2 separate regions of the Homo sapiens genome follow, and region 2 is linked to region 1. A link means that fine-mapping ties the variant in region 1 to the expression of a gene that starts in the linked region. Tissue or cell type: whole blood. Region 1 holds a variant in brackets; the other region holds the start of a gene. All regions are shown on one strand. Distances are between the middles of the regions.

The links. PIP is the estimated chance that this variant, and not a neighbour inherited with it, causes the effect.
Region 2: it holds the start of PHC1, and the variant in region 1 is fine-mapped to the expression of PHC1 in whole blood (TOPMed, PIP above 0.99). The same link has a PIP of 0.9 or more in T cells, blood mononuclear cells, fibroblasts, lung and skeletal muscle.

The regions. Positions count from the first base shown.
Region 1 is chr12:8,938,885-8,947,114 of GRCh38, reverse strand. It overlaps PHC1 (polyhomeotic homolog 1), which reads right to left. Exons shown (of 15, transcript NM_004426.3): 15 at 5,648-7,810. The coding sequence ends at 7,656. It overlaps M6PR (mannose-6-phosphate receptor, cation dependent), which reads left to right. Exons shown (of 7, transcript NM_002355.4): 2 at 710-886; 3 at 1,531-1,697; 4 at 3,205-3,314; 5 at 3,580-3,710; 6 at 4,573-4,699; 7 at 5,175-6,754. The coding sequence starts at 711. The coding sequence ends at 5,297. Among named protein-coding and RNA genes, the nearest start is that of M6PR, 6.6 kb to the left of the region's middle. The variant T/C (reference allele first, on the strand shown) is at 4,729.
Region 2 is chr12:8,910,935-8,918,934 of GRCh38, reverse strand. PHC1 (polyhomeotic homolog 1) reads right to left here and starts at 4,426. Exons shown (of 15, transcript NM_004426.3): 1 at 4,108-4,426; 2 at 1,144-1,305. The coding sequence starts at 1,257. RefSeq lists silencers at 3,975-4,264, 4,335-4,384, 4,435-4,544 and an enhancer at 6,741-7,293.

The sequences.
Region 1 (8,230 bases):
AACAAGTAGCAATGGCCTGAGGGATCATTAACAGATACCAGAGTAAAGTGTTTTGCAAGGGTAAGTCAGTCTGTCCTGGGTATGAAGATGGATAAGAGAAAAGAAAATGTTAGGTTTTGGTGGGGTTTTTTTGCCAAAACCACAATGACCTTTGCACCAGTCTAGTAAGTTTGGGAAAGAGAGCTGTCTGTGTGTTTTCATTCCTAGAGCAGTACAAGCAGCAGGTGCATTGAATTTACTCAATTGTAAAGTGGCTTGGTGATCCCCAATTTGTTGTCATTGATTTGTAGTGTAAAAGACAACTGTACTTATGGGAAGTCTAGAAACCCTTGAGATTTGTGACCTGTAGAGGCCAAAGAGGTTTCAGAAGACTACATCAAGCCATCAAACAGTAAAGAGGCAAGGATGGCTCCACCCAAGCTGTCATCATTCTTTTTTAAGTTCTTTCATTTCCCTCTTCCCAACTTTGTAGTTTGTTCTGAAAGACTCACCTATACATTAGACTACAAGTTACATATAAATGAATTTTCTGCTGCAGATGCTCTTGTTACAGAGATATTAAAATGTACTATGTGTTGCATATGCCAGAGAATCTTGTACTTTCTGGATAATTAAAATACCATCGATTTATTACACATTCATACGCTTTATCTCTTTCCTCTCTCTCCTGATCCTACCTGCCCTCCCCAACACACACTCTCTCCCAAAGGATGTTCCCTTTCTACAGCTGCTGGAGGACTGGACTGCTACTACTACTCCTGGCTGTGGCAGTGAGAGAATCCTGGCAGACAGAAGAAAAAACTTGCGACTTGGTAGGAGAAAAGGGTAAAGAGTCAGAGAAAGAGTTGGCTCTAGTGAAGAGGCTGAAACCACTGTTTAATAAAAGGTAAATGAGAAGAACCTTAAAGAGCTTGAGAAAATATTTATGTTAAAGTCTTTTCTTCTTACTGATTTTATTTCATAATGTGCTCTCTTTTATGACATAGAGCAAATTCTCAGCCCAGTTTTTAGTTGCTGTGTGCAGTTTTCTCATCTTTCACAGAAGTGTAGCTATTTCCAAGACTGGATCCAAGAGACCAGCTTGTAGAAATTTAAGGATTATTTGACACCTACATATAATAGGACTTTAGAAATATCAGATAAACATATTTAGGCCGACACATGTCATTATAAGTGTCAGGAACCTTCAGATATATAAATCTGAAGTTGGTCCCTAAGAAACGAGACTATCCGATGAACATGGGCCCTTATTCATTGGAACATGGTTACTAACAGGCATTCTAAAAATAACTAGAATATTGAGCTATCAAGATAGCTCAAGTGTGTTTTAATAATTCATCATCAGCAATAAGGATGGTCTGTCAAGGTTATGAATATCTTAAAATTAAACAAATATTCACTCAGCCATGACCTCAAATAAATAAATCGAGCATGTTGTTTGTTTTGTTTTAATTAAGGAAAGGGATGCTGTTATTCCTGAGGCTGATAGCTAGTAACTCTCCTCTTCTTTCTTCCCACTTCTCTTTACAGCTTTGAGAGCACTGTGGGCCAGGGTTCAGACACATACATCTACATCTTCAGGGTGTGCCGGGAAGCTGGCAACCACACTTCTGGGGCAGGCCTGGTGCAAATCAACAAAAGTAATGGGAAGGAGACAGTGGTAGGGAGACTCAACGAGACTCACATCTTCAACGGAAGTAAGAAAACTCCCCTTCCTACCATCGATTGACTAACTGATCCCAAGTCAATCCCTCTGACAATCCTGTATGTCTTGGCCGTTTCTAGTGTCTTCAGCATATCATACGTGTGGTTCGGCACACCTGAGACTGTAATATACCACAGGATGCCTAATTCCACAGCTCCTCTGTAAGCCACAGCTCAGGACAGTTGTGCATTAAAATCAGTGAAAAACTTATGCAAAATGAAGACTCTAGCCAGAATTGTTTTGTTTTGTTTTGAGACGGAGTCTCTCTCTGTCACCCAGCCTGGAGTGCAGTGGCACAATCTCGGCTCACTGCAACCTCAGCCTCTTGGGTTCAAGCGATTCTCCAGCCTCAGCCTCCTGAGTAGCTGGGACTACAGGTGTGTGCCATCATGCCCAGCTAATTTTTGTATTTTTAGCAGAGACAGGGTTTCACAATGTTGGCCATGATGGTCTTGATCTTTGACCTCGTGATCTGCCCACCTTGGCCTCCCAAGGTGCTGGGATTACAGGCATGAACCACCGCGCCCAGCCAACTCTAGCCAGAATTCTGTAGCCTAGAGTCCTTTTATTCACCCAAATACTTTTAATGAGTTTCACACTAGACTTACAAATACCAACCACCACCACCACTTTTCATCAAATTAATCAAAGTTTACCAGTTAAATTTTAAGAGCTCAAACTTTTTTTTGCAAACTACTCAGTCTGCAAAACTTTACCCACTGATTTTTGTGCTATGGTGGTGATATTTCTTAAAAGTCATATTGCTGGAGAGGACCATGTAAGCACCTATGGTCCAATTCCCTCCCATACAGATAAATAAGTTATACAAGGTAGCTATTTACTCCTGGTAAATAATACAATAAAAAAGTAACAAAAGGGTTTGGGGCTGGGGATCATGTGACCAGGTTCTCCTCCTGTTTCCTAATCCTGTGACTGGAAAGTCGTATCACCTTTTGACCTTGTTTTCTCATATGCAAAACTAGGAGCAGAATCTTTACCTTATTCACCTCACAATTACTGAATCAAATGATATTTTGCAAAAGAACTGAACACAGTAAATACTAAAGAAGAGATATGCATTCCAATCTTAGATATCCACTCTGAATTTATCTGGGGCTAAGTTGAAATCTTAGATGGGCTTACCCCTGCTGCTCAGCAATTGTATGGAACCTCTTTTTTTGCTTTTAGAAGGTATTCAGAAAATGAATCAGTGTTAAGGTATGGATCATAATTGGTTTTGCATTGTCAGTTGCCTACCTTTAATGTTAAAAATTAAGATTATTCTTAAATGAATATCTGATTCTTGTCTTAAGGGAACACAAGTCTTTGTAAGCAAACAAGTTTAGCTTGGCATTTCTGGTATACCAAGTTCGTACTGATGAGGGTTGTTTAGTTATAACCAATTGCAATGAATTACGCAATTCCACTCTGCCATACCACCCAGATCTGCCTCTGCTTTTCCCCCACCCCATAGCTCCATTTTCCTTGTCCCTCCTCAGGTAATTGGATCATGCTGATCTATAAAGGGGGTGATGAATATGACAACCACTGTGGCAAGGAGCAGCGTCGTGCAGTGGTGATGATCTCCTGCAATCGACACACCCTAGCGGTGAGGCACCCTGTGTTGTATAAGCCGAGGGAGGAGACTGAAAGGACTGACCTGAGGTTGGGGAGAATATCCAGAGGGGACACGATACGTTGGGATGGACATTAGAAAACTAGGAGCTCAGTTTCTCTCTGTGTCAGACACGCATCTTCCATGGAAAATAGGCTGCTGAACCAGGAAGGAGCAGATGTTTTTTGGGTTTTTTATTTTGTTGGACAGGAGTCAAAACACTTAACCACCTGAATGTGTTATGCCATCTCATCATCAGGACAATTTTAACCCTGTGTCTGAGGAGCGTGGCAAAGTCCAAGATTGTTTCTACCTCTTTGAGATGGATAGCAGCCTGGCCTGTTCACCAGAGATCTCCCACCTCAGTGTGGGTTCCATCTTACTTGTCACGTGAGTATGCCTTCCTTTATCAGAACAGACCTTCCTTCCTTTTGTTTTTAAGGTCAGTAACTATATGGTGGTACATAAGCACAAATTGTATGTGTACATTATGCTGTAATTGATGGGGATAACTTTTTAAATCCTCTGGCTATAAAATAATTCTGCCAGGACACAGGGCTCACGCCTGTAATCCCAGCACTTTGGGAAGCCAAGGCAGATGGATCACCTAAGGTCAGGAGTTTGAGACCAACCTGACCAACATGATGAAACTCCGTCTCTACTAAAAATACAAAATTAGCCAGCACAGTGGCACATGCCTGTAATCCCAGCTACTTGGGAGGCTGAGGCAGTAGAATCACTTGAACCTGGGAGGTGGAGGTTGCAGTGAGCTGAGGTCGCACCACTGCACTCCAGCCTGGGCAACAAGGGCAAAACTCCGTCTAAAAAAAAAAAAAAAAAAAATTCTGACTGCAAGTTTTTGAAAAATGAGATTTAATGTTTAGTTGCCGGTATAGATTTGCATTTGGAGGTGCTTTTTTCCCCTACTGCAGGACTAGGCAATTTTTATATTATTTCATTAGATTATGAGAACTTCTAGAGAAATGGAATCATATACTTAATGGTGATTATTCTTGGCCATAGAATCACACGCTGTCACATTTTGTCTGGGCCTTTGCTTCTCTTGGACTGACAGCACTCTAACTGGTTTTCTAAGAGTTACCAGCCCCCTTTTTCATTTAGTATCACTACTCATTTTTCCTTTTCAGGGAATGTATCTTAGGAAACAGCTGACAATAAATGCAGAGGTTATCCTATCTGAGTTTTTACTATTTCCCAGTTCTTAAGTATAGATGTCTTTCTCTCTCTACAGGTTTGCATCACTGGTTGCTGTTTATGTTGTTGGGGGGTTCCTATACCAGCGACTGGTAGTGGGAGCCAAAGGAATGGAGCAGTTTCCCCACTTAGCCTTCTGGCAGGATCTTGGCAACCTGGTAGCAGTAAGTAACAGGGCAGCTGGTTGAATTTG[T/C]AGCCTGCAAACAAGGTTGGGTGACCAACCATCCTCGTTTGTTCACACTGAGGGGGTTCCTGGGACACAGGACATTGAGTGCTAAAACCACAAAAGTCCCAGCAAACAAGACAGTTGCCCTAGTACAGAGTAGTAAGTGGCACAGCATCCATTTCTGGCCTTGGTAAGACATTGCTGAAAGAGCAACACTGTTGACCAGATGGGCTCTTCTAAATCTGATTTAGCTTTTAAGAGGGCCTGGGTGGGAAGAAGGTGAGGCCTAATAAGAAGAAACTTTTTCTCCTGTTGCCCCAAATTGAATTTAGGCTGATTGTCAGATCTTTTAGGTTTTCTCATTATCCCTATAGAAAACCAATTCTTGCCACATTCCTAGACCATAAGTACACTTTCTCATATCCTAAAGTTAGATGCTGCGAATTATTTCCTTCTTTTTTTTCCCCCTACAGGATGGCTGTGACTTTGTCTGCCGTTCTAAACCTCGAAATGTGCCTGCAGCATATCGTGGTGTGGGGGATGACCAGCTGGGGGAGGAGTCAGAAGAAAGGGATGACCATTTATTACCAATGTAGATTGCACTTTATATGTCCAGCCTCTTCCTCAGTCCCCCAAACCAAAGCTACACAGCCAGATTTCTCAAGCAGTCTCAACTCCAGTCCCTCATCTCACCCTTACTATTGCTCTTGCTTTCCAGTTTGCTTTTGATTTGCATCTTCTCACTAGTAAAACTGCCTTCCCTTTGTTCCTTATTTTCTGTTTTTTCTCTAGAGAGGTACAGTTGTAAGTCAGAGTTAATATAATAGGGCCTGTGAAAACAGAGGCTTTTGCATTGTCTCTTGACATCAGAAGTTACAATAGGCATATGGGCAAAATGGTGTAGCAGGCTCACTGGCCGTTTGTTTTTTAAACACATTTTCACAAGTTTTTGAGACACTGGATTTCTTTAATTAAAAAAAAAATGCCAAGAAACATTATTTATACAGGGTTGATTGCTTTCATGTTGTTATTCTGTACCCTATAGTAGCCTCCATGAGAATCTGGTATTTCTTGCTGCTTGGAACTACTTTGCAGTGATTACTTGGTTGCAGTCCAAGTACTCTCGTTTAGTCTGAGCCTGGAGATGTTCTAGACTTGCTTCTCCCACCTCTGAGATTAGGACAGGAAAAATGTGAAATTTCCCAATTACAGGATTATACGGTACCATCACATCATTTGTGGAAATTGGGGTGACTGTATAGCTGGGATTGGGCTAAGGACTGTGGTCTTATCTGTCCACATACAGCCAAAATGCCTATCCAGAAATCCAGTTCGTTGGAAAGGAAAATTGGTACTCCTGTGCCACAGGGGTTCCAGAAAAGGGAAGTCACTTTACCTTGCGGTGGTGGGATCCTGATGTCTTTCATCCATTTGTAGTAAAAGCTGGTAAAGCTTTTCTTACTCCTGGTTCCCTACCAGTATTTCTAAACATGTCGCACTTTCTCCACAGGCATGTGGTTTTGACCTTTTTTTCAATCTTCTAGAAAGGGAACGGAAGCAGAAGTGGGACATCGAGGGCTCTGCTGTCCTCTGCGCTGGGTGTGGAATGCTGCTGCACCTGTCCCTTCTGCTGGCTCAGGGAAGTGTCTTCTTGCCCACATTTCTGTGGGGAAAGGTTTTTAATCCTCTGATGCTTCCATCTTCCTGTTTAGGCCATGTGCCCAGAAACCTGGACTGATCTTTCTTTAATAGTGAACCCCTGGGCCACTGAAGAGTAACATGGCTCCACTGGACACAAAAGAGGGATGGAATCAACAGGCAGGGGGCCTTTTATAAGCCTTAGGAAAAGAAAATGAAACTATTTCATCTTTGGACTTTTCAATACTATTGGAGTGATTTTTTTCTTTCTAAACAGGGAAAATAATGTTACAAAAGCATCTTTTTTGTTATTTGTTTGCATCCCTCCCCCACACCCTGGTGTTTTAAAATGAAGAAAAAAAACCATCACCTTTTGTACAAAAACTCTTAATGATTAAAAAACAAACAAAACATATTGGCCTTGTCATTTGTGTGAAAGTGGGCAAAGACTGGAATAGAGTAAGACAACTGAAACCAATTTTCATCCTTTTACTGAGGAAAAAAATATTTAATATTTTTGTTATATAAGGAATAGTGCCTAAGGCAGGTACTTATACTCCTGACCTCAGCCCCACACACTCTGGTTTTATAAAGCTATAGGACAGAGCAGAGATGGAACTGAAAAACAGGGTAGAAAATAACATAAATTGGAGGGGAACAGTGGGATGCAGAAAGAATGACAACAGCCACATGTGCCCCAGTCAAATACTTTTAGTCCCTGCAGCAGAAGATGCCAACCAAGTCTCTATACTGGCTGGGGATCCTGCCATGGATGCAGGAGAAAAAATTCAATCACAAGGGAGTAAGTGACAACAAAAAGAAAAAACTCTGAGCCACAGCTACACTGGGAGGGGGGAGGACCAGATTTTGCTACTTCTGTCACACAAGCTAGAAAAACCCTACCTCTCCCATTGGGCAGGCAACCTGACATTCCACCCAGTTCCTTGCCTTACCATACTATGTATTCCTCCTCTTGGAGAATTAAGACCTGGGCTAAATGCTCCACTCCAGGATAAGGCTGAGCAGTCCTAGTTCTCTAGACTGCCTCTTTTATAAAGATTGGATTAAGGTACGTGAAATGGTGAGAACTGTAAAGATTTTAAAAAATAAAGTAGAACCCAGAGAAAATGTCAAAGCTGCCGCCATGTAGCACCAGCAACCAATTCTTGCACTTCTCTTCCCTGTCTCAGTAATCCCCTACAGAAGGTTACATGATTGGAACAACTCTTTCTTCCCTGCAAAGTCTGCTGGTACCAGGTTATAACCTGGACAGTGGAGAGTGTCTGCCTTAGGCTGGTTTGTGCAAGAGGGCCACCTTAGGTCTCCTTGAGGACATTTATCTTGGCGCAGATCTTGAGGGCAGGGCCCAGCTTGATGTTCATGGCACTCATAAGATGTTCTTCTTTAAGTAATAAAAGGGCCTGTCCATCAATCTCCTGTGAGCGAAATTCCTCTGCAATCTCTTGGCAGCCTAGAAGAAATGGTGAGAACATGTAGGTAATGCCAGATGATAGGAGAAGGGAAGCTAAATGAAACTGAGGTCTAGCAATGATTAATTCCAAAGTACCTGTCCTAAATTCAGTAATATGAAGTCAGATGGCAAGCTTTAAAAGCAAAATGAAATTAGAAAGCAACTGGTATTTAAAAAATGGCCAGGTGCAGAGGCTCACGCCTATAATCCCAGCATTTTAGGAGACCAGGGCAGGCAGATCACTTGAGCTCAGGAGTTCAAGACCATCCTGGGCAACATGGCAAAACCTTGACTCTACAAAACATACAAAAATCAGCTGGGCATGGTGATGCATGCCTATAGTCCCAGCTACTCGGGAAGCTGAGGCAGGAGGATCATTTGAGCCCAGGATGCGGAGGTTGCAGTGTGCCAAAATTCATG
Region 2 (8,000 bases), 28 kb after region 1:
ATACTGTATAACCTAGGTACGGAGTAGGCTACATAATCTGGGTGTGTGTAAGTGCGCTCTATGACAGTCACGCAATTACAAAATCGTCCAACAATACATTTCTCAAAACGCGTTCCTGTCATTAAGTGACGCGTGAATGTAATTCTATGGTTTATTCTCCATAGGATGTTAAGAAAAGTAAAGCAGTGCAATTTATACAAACTTGTTTCTCCAATTGGGAGCTGGAAATACATGCCATAGCAAAGACTAGATCGGGTGAAAATAAACAAAATGCCGATTAATGTAAAGAAAATAAGAAAAAAAGCTGGGCATGGTGGAGTGTGCCTATAGTCCCAGCTAGTCAGGAGGATAAGATAGGAGAACTGGGAGTCTGAGGCTGCAGTGAGCACTGATCGCACCACTGCACTCCAGCCAGGGCAACAGAGCTAGACCTTGTCTCAAAAAAAAAAGAAGAAAATGTAAAAGTATATTTTAGGTATACAGTAAAGGTAATACAGCCCTAATGGGTTGGAAATAATGAAAAAATAAATAGTGGCTTCTAAAGATTCCTTCACGTAAAATTTTCAACGAATTCAACTAATTGGCATTTTTACATATCAGTATGCTAATACAGATTTATGAAATGAAAATAGTAGTTTGGTTTTAGTGCTAACTGGACTTTACTGTATTCTTATTCTTTAATAATTAGAACTATTTTTATGATATGTATAGTTATTCTAGTAACCAAAATATTTGCTAAAAGACCTCATTTCCTAACAGAATTAATAAAAACATGGAATTTGCTGTTTGTTTAAAAATAAATCTCTAAAGAGTTCCATGATACTTCTATTACTCAAGGGGATTTACAAGAATGGCCAAAGATTAAAAACCTGGCAATCCAGTATGAGAAAGGGTTAGTTAGAATCTAGCTAGATGGACTGAATGTGTTTTTTAAATCCTTATTTGAAAGACCAGATTTCACTGTTTGCTTGCCTAAACATTTGTAAACTCCTAAGATTCTCAGAGCTGGAAGACAGCTTAGTCATCATCTAACCCAACTCTCCCCAGTTTGTTGAAAAAGAACTGAGTACAATTATTTTCCAGCATCACTGCCTACCACAAGCCAAGACTCACAGACCATGGCCCCTCAGAGCTGAGTCTCACCTGCACTGCTTGTCGTTCATAAAGTGACATTTGAGCTATCTGGGGCCGAGAGCTGCCCCCTGAGCTAGAACTCCCATTGGTGGAATTGGAGTTCTGCTCGCTCTCAGTCTCCATGATAGTGGTCCAGGGTCCCCAAGGCTGGTGCTCTGTCTGACTCAAGACCTAGAGGGAAGCAGTAAAAGGTTAAAATTTATATCTTGATCCCAAGCTGTTATCTCATGTTATTATTCAAAAACACAGGAAATCCATAAGTATCTAAGAATCTTCCTCCTCTTCCATAAGCCATGATTTCTCATCTTAAAACTCCCAAATCTTCAATACACTCTTGCAACCATGTCTTCCCAATACTACCATCTTTTGAAGCTATGCAGTCTCAAAAGAAACAACCTTTACGTATTCCCTCATGGCTGTCATTAAATAAAACGGCCAGAATGTGAGATGGCACCTTACAATACCAAAGTTACCTTACATTCCCATAGCATTTTTTAACAGTTTAAAATCTTTCCACTTAAAAGTTTTGGTTATCTCATTTTTGTCTCCATCTGCATCGTTATCATCCAAATGAGTCACCATATACTGGAGAGCCACTAGTTGCCTCCTTTCACTGGGCTAGGCACTTCACCTATGCTGTATCTCTCTCATAGTAGTGCTGTAAAGTCAACACTGTTATCCTCATTCTACAATTTGAGACATAAGGTTTTCTGAGGTTAAAGAAGTTGCCCTAGTAAGTATCAAGTCTTTGGACTAACACATGCTTCTTCAAACCAAACTGTAATTAAGGCAGTGTCATTCACTATGATAGTGAGTAGTTATCCTCATTTTATGGAGGAGGACCTTAAGATACAGACACATTCAGTGGGTCATGGAAGGTCATAAAACTAGGAAGCAGAAGAGCTCACCTACAGCCCACATAGCCCAAATAGCTGCCTGGTTCCAGCTCAGGCTACTAATAACACCTCAGGCATGTTGCTTTCCTTCCTTATACCTGTTTCCTCACTGCAAAGGAGGCTTCATACTGAATGTAATATATCATTTTAAGAAATGACTCCGGAGTATGAAACATAGAAATACACACAATGAAAATCTTCAAGAAAGTAAGATGCAACTTTATAATCTACTAACATGTCAGAATTTACCCACTGGGGACTACACTTACATTTGCAAAAAGACACATATGAAAACACTGCTAAGAACCAAGCAAAGAGGCAGGAGATGAGAAGAAGAAATATTCTTCCAAAGCAGCACTAAATGACAATAAGGTTTTTACTCATTCTTTTTTTTTGTTTTTCTCTTTTGTTAAGCTACACACTATTTTCTCTACTTCTGAGGCACTGGGCCACTAGAAATATCAGGTCACCAAAATATTATCTGGCTTAAGAATATAAACATCAAACCAGAATTTCTGCTAAGTGTTGTCAACAGTTTCATTAGGGTGAATGGACTGGTCTTAGGGATTGCATCCAAAACAAACAAACAAGCAAAGTATCAAACTGCTTGGCCTTGGCAATAAAGCTGAGGATATTTCTTATTATCTCATTCCCAGTATCATCCAATCACACTATTATCCCCCCCCAGTCTTTAGTTTCATTTAGGACTAGCAAATGTCACTGCAAACATGTATATTACCCAAAAAGTACATAGGAAAAATCATATCAGCTTCAACTAGTCTACCTTCTCCCCACATCTTTTGCCAAAATATCAAAGCACTAAACAGATACAGACCCATGAATCCTCATTATCAGCATGTGAAGAAAAAAAGTGGGTAAGGATTAGAGGCAGCACGGCACAGTTTTATAGATTACTGGATTTAGTTCACTGGACTCAGAGACACGAGACCCCTTTGCTAGGTATAGAGAACATAATTCCTACATTCACATGTGAAAATACAAACCGTATGACCCCTCGTCTTCCCAAACCTGAATTCTGATTAATAATTTTTTTTGGATTGTGAACTAGAAATAAAAATGTAAAGGGACCAACTTAAAAGTCTCAATAAAATCAAGGGAAACTGCCACCAAAACCAGGATTCCTGGATCCCGGGCACATAAATGTATTCATTTGTGATCAACATTATGACTACAAGATTAAATATAAAAAATGGAGACAACAAACAGTTTGGGCAGCACCAGGTATCAAAATTTTCCAAATTAAACTGGAAGACAGTGAGAAGCTGATCCACAGATGCCCCCAGAGTAGCTAAGCCATGGTCATCTTAAAAGGTAGCATGTGGGCATACATGGGGTTGGGTAGGCGCACAGACCTACCGAAGGGAGTTAGAATGGGACATTGAGGTGGACTTAGCATTGGGCCGAGAGTTGGAGAAAGTCAATATCCCTAAGCACGAAACTCTTATCATGCAGAAAGGATGGGACATAGGAAGGGGGACGGGAGAAGGGGGTGGTTCAGGGAAGACTGTGCCAAAGACACGGTAATAATCAAGAGAACAGGGAGTAGACGCCCAAGGGTCCTCGTTCTATATAGAACCTTGATGAAAATGATGTTTCAAAGAGAAATCAAATACACTGGGGGAAGGGGGTGGATCCAGTGGTGCGCCGGGAATGAACTGACCCAAGTGAGCTGGGACATGTGCATACAGAGAGCAGAGGCAGAAGTCAAGGAACTGGAGGCTGAGGAACCCAGCGGACCACGAAAGCAGGGAGATAACTAGACAGCATGCTCGGCTGGAAGGACCAAAGTCAGAGAAGGAAAAATGAATAAGAAAATGAGCAGTCAGAGGCAGCTAGGGTGACGGACAGACAGCATGAAGCGCAGCAGAATGAATAGCCAGAAGACTCGGACAGGCAGAGCCGAAGGACCGCAGAGCTCAGCGCCGGAGGTAGGCAGGGAAAGCAACTGGGGGAGGTACCTGGGGCGTTACACAGATGGAGGTGGCTGAGGATACATCCCCGCGCAGCCAAGCCCCCAGAGGTCCTGCCCCTCCCCGGCCCTCGGTCGCCCGGTTACCTTCTCGCCTGGCTGTGCACCCAAGTCTTCCCCGGGGGCGTCCACCTCATGTGCCGGGGTCCCCAGTCGCCAGGCTGGGCTGGGGGCTCGCTCGGCCTCCGCGGCGGGCTCCCCTCGCCTCCTCCCCTTCCTGGAGGGGCGGGGGCGCCGAGGGCGGGGTGGGAGGCGCCCGGCGCGACCGCGGCTCCCCGCCCCTCCCGCCGCTCCGGGTGCGGGCCCGGCCGCGGCTCAGCCAGGCCTCCGGGGCTCGCTCCGGGCCTGTCACTTCCTGCCCGGCCGAGAAGGTGGGGGCCGCAGGCCAGGGGCTGCGGGCCGGGCTGGAGGAGGGGGCTGCGGGGAGGTGCTTCCGGGGCAGCCGGACCCCCCCCCCGCCGTCCCTCCGCCTCCCCTCGGCGCCCTCCGCCCCCTCCCTCCCGCGCGTCCCTCGTTTCCTGCCGGCGCCCGTTGCCATGGCGACGCAGCTCCCGGGCCTCTGCGCTCCAGGCCCAGGGGTTTTTTCCTCTCTTGCTCTCTTTCTCCTCTTTTTTACCCCCTTCTTTCTCTCCGAGTTCTGCTCGCCGGTTGGAAGGACGAAACTAAGAAAGTGCTGGCCTCTAGTGGGGAACGCACCTCTCGGAGAGGAGAGGGAGATGGGAGAAGGGAGGGAAGTGACGTGAGACGGGGAGAAAGAAGGTATTTTCTGGAGCTGCTGGGAATAAGGGGTAGAAAGAAAGGATCAAAGGGACCAACAGACAGAGAGGGAGAAAGAGCAAAGCAACGACCCCTAGAGAAACGATAGACTGGGAAAAGAAATGAAGCAAAGGAAAGGAAGGAAAAGGCGAGAAAAACTTTGAGAATGAGAGAAAGGAGAGAGAAGGTTGATTGTTTAATCCCTCACCTCAACTCCAAGAAGGCGGGAAAGAATGCTGCAGAAACAGCTAACCCATTAGGAGTTGACTTCATTTTCAAAGCAGCAACCTAATGTAACTTCCTTTGGATAGCATTTAAGTTTGTCATTTCAGGGATTTGTGTGTGCTTCGATTTCAATATGTATATGAGTTCGAATGACAAAAACGGGAAAAGGCCAGAGTATAACGAGATGTAGAACAATGGGGCTGTCTCTGGGAACACTAAACATTTGATAGGGGAGCCGTTGTCGTTGTATTTATGATATCAACTTACCGGTTTTTAATTACTCTCTCATCGTTCAACATTCAATAAATATTTATAGAGCGTCTACTATGTGCTAAACCGTGGAAGCTTGGATTGCATCAGTGCACGAAACAAAGATAACTGCCTTACTGCCTTCATTAACCTTTACAGAAGGGTCTGGGGGATGCCTCGTGGATTAACAACTGGGATTGATGCCTTTTCTCTTGCTCTCAGTCTTTTCCTAACCTCTATCCTAAACAGTTATTTTCTCTGTCAATCCACTCTTCCTTTTCTCCTTTAAAAGCCCATGCATGGTTTGTTTATAGAGAAAAAAACAGAAGTGTTATCTTTGCTTATAAATTATATCCATTTAGATTTTGCTTTGAGAGAGGAGTATTTGGACTCCAAGGTCTTTCATTTGTGGCAGCCAGATTAAAATCGGAGAACAATTTCTGCCAGGCTTCTAGGAACTAGTCAGACAGGTATGTGAGGGAAGAAACCGGAGGGCAGCCAAAGGACTGGAAAAGCGAAGACACGGGGTATGAGGAGGTGAAAGGGTGTGTTACCAGGCCGTGGATGACAGGCACTGGCTGAGGATGATTTGAAAAGATTCTGACTGGTAGAACTAGTGGTGAAAACGAGGTAAAGCATTCGTTGTTTAATTCACACCTGGATTTTTGGCATGTCAAAGCAGTTAAAGCTTTCTTGCAGAAGTTTAGAAATGGATATCGATTGAGCCTAGGCGGAATTTTCTAGCACCAATGGAAAAAAAAAGCATCTATAGATAATTTTCAGATTATACAACATTAAAGTTAAGAAACATGACTCATGTGCTTCCTTAGTTTCCCTGGGAGAATTATCACTGTTAAGTGTCTAAAGAAGATTTGTAAGCTATAACAAGAATAAGGAATGCAGATATCAGAGGGTATGGACTTGTTTTTCTATAGCCTATGGAACTTGTGTACCAAGAGGGTACATGACCATATCGCATTTCACCCTCCTTACAAATGGAGCAGAATTACCGCTACTGCATATAGTTACATTCCACCCCTAAAGATTTTTTTTTTTTATTTACTAGGTCACCGGCTCCTATAGCTACTAGATAATGTTAGGGGATAAGCGATGAATACTTTTGTTGAGTGCCTGTTATAAATTTAGCCTGAGAATAATCTATCATGAGGCGAGCTATACTGATTATGGGCCAGTAGTTTAATTTTTATATGTAAAGGTGTGTGCTCCATATATCACAGGATTCTTTTCAAGTTCATTTTTCTCCAAGTCAGGCCAGTGTTCTAAGGTCATAGGTCTAAACAGTTCCCACCAAAAAAGATTTAGTATAAAAAAGAAATATATCAACAGCAAAGTAAAGTTATAGGAAAGCCTCCATCCATAAGAAAATCATTTTCATAGACTAAATCAGCTTGAGAGCAGGCATTGAAGAACTTATCTCGGTCTAAACAGCAAAACAATCTGTGTTCCCTAGAGAATACTCAACTTTTTTTTCTTAATTTTTCTAAAGTTTCTCATTTTCATTTAATGACTCTGCTTGAATTAGACTTTTCTTTTTCAAACAAAATGGTTCTTCTGAATGGAGGCTACAGAATGTCTTTACTCTGCATAACACTGAAGGCCATTAGCCTAAACAGGTGAGAAGGAAAAGCATTTAATCCGGTGTATGGAAATGGAAGCCCTCCTGCAAACTTCTCTAAATAAGGAAGGATCCTGGTTTGAAAGGCTGTCGATGTTTGGCAGCAACTGAAGCAAATAGACTAGAAGTTAAGCTAATAGAACTTTTCATATCAACTGAACATTGCTTAAGCATTCCTCAAGCTTCTCCTGTAAACCTAGCATTCTGCAATAAATTGTGAAGGAAGAGATGTCCTTTACCCTAAAGGTGTTAGTATCTTTGGAATGTGTCTTTCTACAAGTAATCAAGTAAGAATGTGTGACCATGTTTTTATGCAAATATGGATAGGAAGAAGTAGAGAAAAAAGGAAATCATAACCTTTACTCTCCCCACCACCAACTGTGGCTGTGAACCACCATACACAGCCCACCTGTGTCTCACTATAATTCTGCATGCCACTTTAAGGTCTAGTTGGGAGAAAATGAAGATTGAGTGGATTTATAGGCTCTTAGATATTTAAAGGAAAAAAAAAGAACTTTAAAACTAAGCCCCTCAGTTTTCAGTGAAGACAATTGAAGTCTAAATGATAAATGTAGAAGAGGGATATTTCGTAATCCCTGGAAAATAGAAAATGTCCAATAAATATTAGTTAACTGAATTAATTTCCTAGATTCTTGCCCTTCTCTCATAGGAAAAGAATATGAAATTAAAAGATATAAAGGATACCTCTCATCTCTCGCTACTAATACCTACCATAGATCCTTTCTTCAAGCAGAAGTTTAAAATTAACATACTAATTGGTTCAGCCCAATATTCCATCCATCATTGCCCGCAAAAGATATAGAAGTACCCCTACATCCTTAAGGAGCATAAGACTGACGATAACATACTCTTCATCAGTATTGACAGTTATAATGATGGCAAGTTATGCACCTTTCCTTAACTTTGGTTTGCTTTCAGTAAAACAGGGGTAACACCTGGTAGTTGGTGGAAATAAGTGAGATGTTTGTAAAGCACTTCACATTGGGACCTGACACATAGCACAGGCTATTATTAATTTTCCTTAGTAACTAATATATTTTTGTGATCACCAAATAGAACTAAACCATTCTTTATGTTTTATTCAGTTTACATC